Homo sapiens: one gene and its partner. The protein of the gene in region 1 interacts with the protein of each later gene in a pairwise test. Each region holds a gene or a part of one and is shown on either strand. Other genes may lie near its edges.

Region 1 (4,432 bases):
CTGGTAGGTATACACCTAAAAGAAAAGAAATCAGTATATTGAAGAGATATCTGTACTCCCATGTTTATTACAGCACTATTCACAATAGCCAAGGTTGGAAGCGACCTAAGCGTCTATCACCGATGAGTGGATAAAGAAAATGTGGTACATATACACAATGAAGTACTATTCAGCTAAAAAAGAATTAGATCCTGTCATTCACAATGACATGGATGGAATTGAAGATCATTATGTTACGTGAAATAAGCCAGGCACAGACAGACAAACTTTGCACGTTCTCACTTGCTTGTGAGAGGTAAAAATTAAAACAATTGAACTTGTGGGCATAGAGAGTAGAAGGATGGTTACCAGAGGCTGAAGGGTAGTGGGGGTTGGGGAAGAAGTGGGGATGGTTAATGGGTACAAAAAAATAGAAAGAATGAATAAGAACTAGTATTTGATAATACAACAGTGTGACTATAGTCAATAATAATTTAATTGCACATTTAAAAATAAAAATATAATTGCACTGTTTGTAACACAAAGGATAAATATTTGAGGTGATGGATATCCCATTTACCCTGTGTGATTATTACATATTGCATGCCTCTATCAACATATCTCATATACCCCATACAAATATATGCATACCCCATACATATATATATACATACACACACACACACACACACACACACACACACACACACACACACATATATGTATATCTACTATGTACCCACAGACGTTAAAAATTAGAGGAGAAAACACACACACAACAAGGAGACTGAGCTGGAAGGATGGAGCTCTGGGATAGATTTGTCCTACATCCCTGCCTGGGAGGGAATCCACACACATGCAAGAAGACAAACTAGGAGCATGGGCTACTAAATTATACCACATTGCACTCATCGGGGTCACAGGGTTTCTTCCAAGTGACCCGCACATGCCCTTCCCATCTCTGTGTGACAGTGGCACCTGCACCAGACTGCATGTTGAGGTGTCATCTGAAATTATGAAATAAAACAGAAGTAAGAGGTCTATTAGCTCATCAAAATGCAGTTATCTAAGTTCAGCTGTGAACTGCCAAATTTGAGGAGTGATCCAATGAAACATCTTTTCTTTGCAATCCAAGAAGACTTACCGGAGAGAACTGCTCAGAGAATCTGCAACATCCGGTTCCTGGAGACAGCTAAGGAAAGAAGCTGGGGCGCATGTTTCTGCCCAAAGCCGGGTTTTGGCCGAGGTGACTACACACCCCCTTTCCTGGCTCCCATAGGCTAAGTGCCTGGCTTCTTGAGAAGCCTGCTTCTTGAGAACAAAAAAGTGATTTAAAGCCTCATGGGAGATGAGCAATCCTCAAGACACAAGCAGAAAAAGTCCCAGTGATACAGGAAGCGGGTTCAGGAACCTGCTGGTTCCTGATACATAAATCAGACAGCCTCTGCTGCATGACACGAAGCTTGCTTCTGCCTGGCATCTGTGAGCAGCTGCCAGGCTCCGGCCAGGATCCCTTCCTTCTCCTCATTGGCTGATGGATCCCAAGGGGCTCCTCTCCTTGACCTTCGTGCTGTTTCTCTCCCTGGCTTTTGGGGCAAGCTACGGAACAGGTGAGTGTTCATCTGCCTGATGGTTTGAGTCCCATGTTAGCTGCCAGGAATCAGCGTATCTTCGTGGATGGAGAGAAGGTGCAGGGCTGGGTATTGTGTTTGGTCACTCTTCCTTAGGGACTGGCTGTCAGTTTCAACTGCCTCTTTCAAAGAGGAAGGAACATTATAAGTTCCTGGGCCCTTGGGTTTCCAAGACTCAGCCCCACCAACCCCAGTTTCCAAGGAAATGAGGGGCTCTAAGCCAAAGGCTCCAGTCACTTTTCTGACCAGTCTTAGGGTGACAGGCCCTGGTAGAAGTCTTGCTTGAGTGGTTGGTTTTACATGGGCATCTTCTGGCAAAGACCCAGCCTAGAGAGACTGAGCTGGATGGACTGAGCTCTGGGAGAAGATTTGCCCTACATCCCTGCCCTGGGAGGGAATCTGTGCACATGCAGGCTGACAAACCAGGAGCATGGGTCAACAGAAAGCATTGGCTAGAGTGGGAAGAGAGAGTAGAAGTGAAAACTCCAGGCTTTTGGCTGAGAACCAGCAGTGGCCACAGTGCGGTCATACTGGTGTGTATTTTCTTGGAAGAGAAGGTCCAAGAAAGCAAGAGGGAAGAAGTTGGGATTTCTGAAGGCTAGGGCTGGTTACAGTATGTGGGAAATGCAAATTGGGAACCCTCAGAGAGTAGCTCCAGCAGGAAGGCCAGACAAGAGCTACCTTTGGATCTGGACTCTGTTCCTGTCTTTCTGTCTATCTTCTTCCCAAGGCAGGCTATTGCTTTCTGTTTAGAAGTATCAGGGCTATGAGAAAAGGTATTTGAGAAAGAAAAAGCCAAGCAAGAAGTGGACTTTGGACTGCCTGTGTGAGTGGGGTGAGAATCTCCTTCTGCTTATTTGTTTAGACTGTGGGAGGTAGCCTGGAGTAGAAGAGGTGGCATTACGGACACGGGGGGAAATCCTGAGGCCCAGGGTGTTTTAAGCTTGGGGTTTTCAAGACCGCAAATCCAATATGGACTTTTCCAGGAAAAGCACCGTGATATGCCAGGGATGTGGGGGTGCTGCACAATGGATGTGTCTTTTACCAGACAGCCAGACGAACAGGGCTTGCTCAGCCCACTTTCTTTTGGAATCTGCAGATCCATGGCTCGTACTTCCCAAGGTCTAGGGGAGGAAGAACTGAGCTCGGGGCTCAGAAAACCAAATCGAGCCACTTTAAGTGGTCACAGGGAAAGCCAAGCCTCCGTTGTTGCAACCAATTTGTGACTGCACCATTTCTGGAGCACCTCTTGGTGACTGTAAGGTGTGATGGAGTGATGGTGCTGAACTGTGAACTGGACTTTTCCATCTCTGTGCTTGCTAGCCTCTTGGCCAGCCTGGCCCATAGCATCTTAGGCACTGCTGACCAATAGCTCGTCTTATTGAGGCTTTGGAAGTCGCCGGTCAGGGAGAAGCAACCCAGCCCCACAAGGCAAGTCTATCCAATCGGAGGCTGCTCACTTCATTGCATGTTTTCTTCTTTGAATCTTCACAAAAGTTTTTCAGTGTTTTTATTTTTAAATACACACCCTTTTGTGAAGCCCCAATAAAACCCAGACAGAAATGCTTTGCAAATGGGGCAGGTTAGTCATGACAGATTTGCCCAAGCAAGAAGCTTGATTCTTGTAAAACTGGCATCCACTCCCATTCTCATTTCTACTCAGCTCAACTTCTAATTCCCAGTCAGAATTGTAAAAATCAAAAAGTCCACATGTCCCTTCCCCAAGTAAAGTGAATTTTTCATTTCCCCCGATGAGATTTGTTTTAATAGACTTTATTTTTTAGAGCAGTTTTAGGTTCACAGCAAAGTTGGGCAGAAAGAACAGAGATTTCCCATATGCCCTCTGCCCCATACATACATAGCCTCCCCTATTATCAATATCCCCCACCAGGATGGTACATTTGTTATAATTGATGACCTTATGTCAATGAGTTTTTTTTATTCCTCCATGCAGTTCCTCTGCACCCCCTTCACACACTTTGGGGGAAGGTGAGGGACAAGTGCGTGGGTTCTAGACTTGGCCTAACCTTGCGTGTTCAGTGGCCCATTCTATCCCAAGATGTCAATCTAGGCACTTCTATTTCTCAAAAATATTAATACTGTGATGTGATGCTGTCACTTTCACTGTCTCCCTCACTGGACTGGAAATCAGAGTATCAGGGCTAATTGGTTTAATCCATAGATTTGACTTTGAATGATCCCATTCAGCAACTATTAAGGACACATGATGTGGCAGCCACTGTGCAAGGGTGCAAGGTGTGGGGAAAACAAAATGAACAACAGCCACTGCCCAGCACCTGACACTGTGTCTGTACTGAGAGCCTGTCCACAAATATTTGTTGAGTGAATAATACTGGTATATACTGCATACTTGCCATATACCAGGCACTGTTCTAAATGCTTTATGTGTGTCAGTCATTTCATTTTCACACCAACCCTATAAGAAATGTATGTATTATTGGTACCATTACAACTTTATAAATGAGGAAAGGGGCACAGAGTAGTTTAGCAATTTCTCTGCGCTCACATAGCTGCCTGACTCCAGAGGCCTCAATGAGTAAAACTGGACAAGCCTATGTTTGGGAAGCAGGGGTGGAGAGAATGCCAAAATTTGTATCCAGGTCCCATGGTAAAAATTAGAATGTGCTATCTATAATTGAAAAATATGAGTTGAATTGAATTGGAATAAATTGAAGTATAGAAATGTCCAAAAGGTGAGAGACTGATAAAAATCACAGAAGAACGTAGAGGGCATATAAGAAGTATTTGACCTGGAATTTGGAAAATGAAAACTTTTTTTCATCATGCAAATGTTCATTTAA
Region 2 (3,725 bases), on another chromosome or scaffold:
GGGTTTGGGCTGGGCGTCCTGGCTCACGCCTGCAATCCTAGCACTTCGGGAGGCCACAGCGGGAGAATTGCTTGAGACCAGAAGTTCAAGACAGCCTAGGAACACAGCGAGACCCTTTCTCTATTAAAAAATTAGCCAGGGGTGGTGGTGTGCACCTGTAGTCCCAGCTACTCTGGAGACTGAGGTGGAGAATCGCTTGAGCCAGGAGGCTGTAGTGAGCTGTGATTGTCGCCACTGCACTCCAGCCTGGGCAACAGAGCAACACCCTGTCTAAAAATATATATATATATATGTCTCAAGGGTTTGAAGATGTGACCAATGAACTCTTTCTATCCCCAATCCTAGGAGTCTTATGTCTGGAAGATGTACCAAGAGAGATGTTGGGATTTCTTCCCAGCTGGTGATTGTTTCCGTAAGCAGTATGAGGACCAGCTTAGCTGACACACCCCCAGCTGGCCCTCCACCCCCACCTCAAGTGCCTTATTCTCACAGCAAGCCCCTTAGTCCCCAAGCCCCTCCCCCTAAGGCAGCTGGGGGAGAGGTGACCTAGTACTGGAAAATAAATCTGTGCTACGCCCCCCAGCATCACTGTGTTGGCCTGCTGAAATTTTGGAGGAGTGGACATCCAGGAATTGTTTCCCCCAAGAAAAACAAGATGACAGCAGAGGCTAAAGTCATGTTTATTGGGAGATGAGGACATGCCATGACCACTAGTGTGTCTATGGGGGAGGGGGTGCAAGGACTAGTTCCTGACACCCCCCTAGGGACTCATTCCTGGATGTAGAGGTTGCTGGGAGCAGTAGGATCATCCACTGGGCGTGTCTCCACCACTACAGGCCTGTGGAAGGAAGAGATAAGTCAGTTCATTTATTCATTCATATGTTCATTGATTCATTAATTCACAAAGTAGTTAATAGAGACTGTGCCAGCCCCATGCTGAACTATAGCAGTGAATGGGCAGACACGGTCCCTGCCCTTAGGAAGCTTGCATTCTAGAGAAGGAGATCAACATGAATCAGTGAATTACATGAGTGCAAAAAAGCATGGCATGTCTGGCAGGGAAACCTAACCCAGGAGGTCAGCCCAGACTCCCCAGAGAATGGATGGTGCAGCCTGAAGGGGGGTTAGGAGGGAACTTGGTGAAAGGGCAAGGAAGAGTGTTCTGGCTGGGGAGAACAGCCTGTGCAAAGGATTTGAGGTGGGAGAAAGGCTGGGACTTGGCTGGAGATGTCATGGCCTTGTGGGCTGTGGCCAGGATTGAGTCTTTATCTTGAGGCCATGGGAGGATTTTAAGCAGGGAGACAGTGACACGATCAGATTTGGATTTAAAGTGACCCTTCTGGCATGTCAAAAGGACACAGGGGCTACTTAAAGTGGTTCCCACTGGCTAAATTTAAGACCATTTGTGCCTCAAAATAAATAATGACAAGGCCGGGCATGGTGGCTCATGCTTGTAATCCCAGCACTTTGGGAGGCCAAGGGGGGCAGATCACTTGAGGTCAGGAGTTCAAGACCAGCCTGGCCAATATGGTGAATCCCATCTCTACTAAAACTACAAAAATTATCCAGGTCCATCCTGGCTAACACGGTGAAACCCCATCTCTACTAAAAATACAAAAAAAAATTAGCCAGGTGTGGTGGCAGGCACTATAGTCCCAGCTACTCGGGAGGCTGAGGCAGGAGAATGGCGTGAACCTGGGAGCCAGAGCTTGCAGTGAGCCGAGATAGCGCCAGTGCACTCCAGCCTGGGCGACAGAGCGAGCCTCTGTCTCAAAAAAAAAAAAAAAAATTTATCCAGGCATGGTGGTGCACGCCTGTAATCCCAGCTATTCGGGAGGCTGAGGCAGGAGGATCGATTGAACCTGGGAGGCAGAGGTTGCAGTGAGCTGAGATCACACCACTGCACTCCAGCCTGGGTGACAGAGCGAGACTCCATCTCATAAATAAATAAATAAATAATGACAGTAATAGACTATAACCCACAGAATAAAAATCCATGAGACCATGCTGGTATAAAGAAAGAAGAATGGAGAAGACACAGCTCTTCTTTAGAGTAGAATGCCAACTAACACACGCAGAAGGAAACATAGAATCAGAAAATCACCATTTATTGTTAGTAGCCACCTAACAATAATAGATTCAGGGAAAAATCAATTGATTCTAAAACTAGTGGGCAGGCCAGGTGCGTTGGCTCAAACCTGTAATCCCAGCTACTCGGGAGGCTGAGGCAGGAGAATTGCTTGAACCTGGGAGGAGGAGGTTGCAGTGAGGCGAGATCGTGCCACTGCACTCCAGCCTGGGGGACAGAGTGAGACTCTGACTCAAAACAACAACAAAAGACAAACAAAAAACAATAAAACTAGTGGGTGAAAATCTGATGAGAAACAACGTATTTACAGACTATTTACCTCGTCTCAGTGAATCTCCCCAAAAGATACTTCTTTTTTTTTTTTTGAGACAGAGTTCACTCTTGTTGCCCAGGCTGGAGTGCAATGGCGCGATCTCGGCTCACTGCAACCTCCGCCTCCCGGGTTCAAGCGCTTCTCCTGCCTCAGCCTCCCGAGTAGCTGGGATTACAGGCATGCAACACCATGCCCGGCTAATTTTGTATTTTTAGTAGAGACAGGGTTTCTCCACATTGGTCAGGCTGGTCTCAAACTCCCGACCTCAGGTGATCCACCTGCCTCGGCCTCCCAAAGTGCTGGGATTACAGGCGTGAGCCACCGCGCCCGACCGGTGGGATACTTCTTATTACAAAGAAAAACAGAGGCTGGGTGCGGTGACCCCTGCCTATAAGCCCAGCACTTTGGGAAGCCTACACAGGTGAATCTCTTGAGTCCAGGAGTTCCAGACCAGGCTAAGTAACATGGCGAAACCCTGTCTGTACAAAAAATACGAAAATAAGCCAGGTGTAGTGGTACGCGCCTGTCATCCCAGCTACCCGGGAGGTTGAGGTGGGAGGACTGATTGAACCCAGGAGGTCGAGGCTGCAGTGAGCCATGATCGCGTCACTGCACTCCAGCCAGGGTGACAGAGAGAGAATCTATCTTTAAAAAAAAAGAAAAAGGGAGAAAAAAGCAACTTCACAGTGGAGAGAACTGGCTGATTCTACCTTAACCAAATGACCGAAGTTAATATCACCAGTAATGGGACAAACTAGCATTGTGTACTTCCTGAAATGATGCACTGAGAAAGACATCTTTCTGCAGTATTCCTGCCCAAAATTCAGAACGTGGAAACCTCAAACACAGTTAAGGGACATTTTAGAAAACAAATTTCCTTTAATTTTTAAAAAGGTCAAAGCTCCTTTAAGACAAAAGAAGTTTTAATTATTTTTTCCGGCTTAATTATAAAGAAACATGGCTCCTAAGTGCCACCTATGATCTTGGACCAGAAAAAAAAAAAAAAAAAAAAAATATATATATATATATATATATATATATATATATATATATATAATCACGGGCGTCACTAGGACAACGGGTGAAATTTTTTGTTGTTGTTGTTGTTGTTTTCTGAGACAGAGTCTCGCTCTGTCACCCAGGCTGGAGTGCAGTGGCGTAATCTCGGCTCACTGCAACCTCCACCTCTCCGATTCAAGTGATTCTCCTGCCTCAGCCTCCCAGCTGGGATTACAGGCACGTGCCACCACACCCAGCTAATTTTTGTATTTTTACTAGAGGTGGGGTTTCTCCATGTTGGCCAGGCCCATCTCCAACTCCTGA

Evidence for each region.
Region 2: the proteins of SLAMF1 (region 1) and MAP4K1 interact in binary tests that used the Homo sapiens proteins (3 or more experiments, as listed by UniProt).

Annotation. Positions count from the first base shown.
Region 1 is NC_000001.11:160,644,027-160,648,458, reverse strand, and holds the start of SLAMF1 (signaling lymphocytic activation molecule isoform b precursor), read left to right. Parts: upstream 1-1,414; 5' UTR 1,415-1,513; coding exon 1,514-1,589; intron 1,590-4,432.
Region 2 is NC_000019.10:38,586,980-38,590,704, forward strand, and holds the end of MAP4K1 (mitogen-activated protein kinase kinase kinase kinase 1), read right to left. Parts: intron 2,297-3,725; coding exon of another isoform or gene 2,199-2,296; intron 839-2,198; coding exon 769-838; 3' UTR 662-768; downstream 1-661. Other genes in the region: RYR1 (ryanodine receptor 1), read left to right, coding at 346-441. UniProt on the Homo sapiens protein: Serine/threonine-protein kinase, which plays a role in the response to environmental stress. Appears to act upstream of the JUN N-terminal pathway.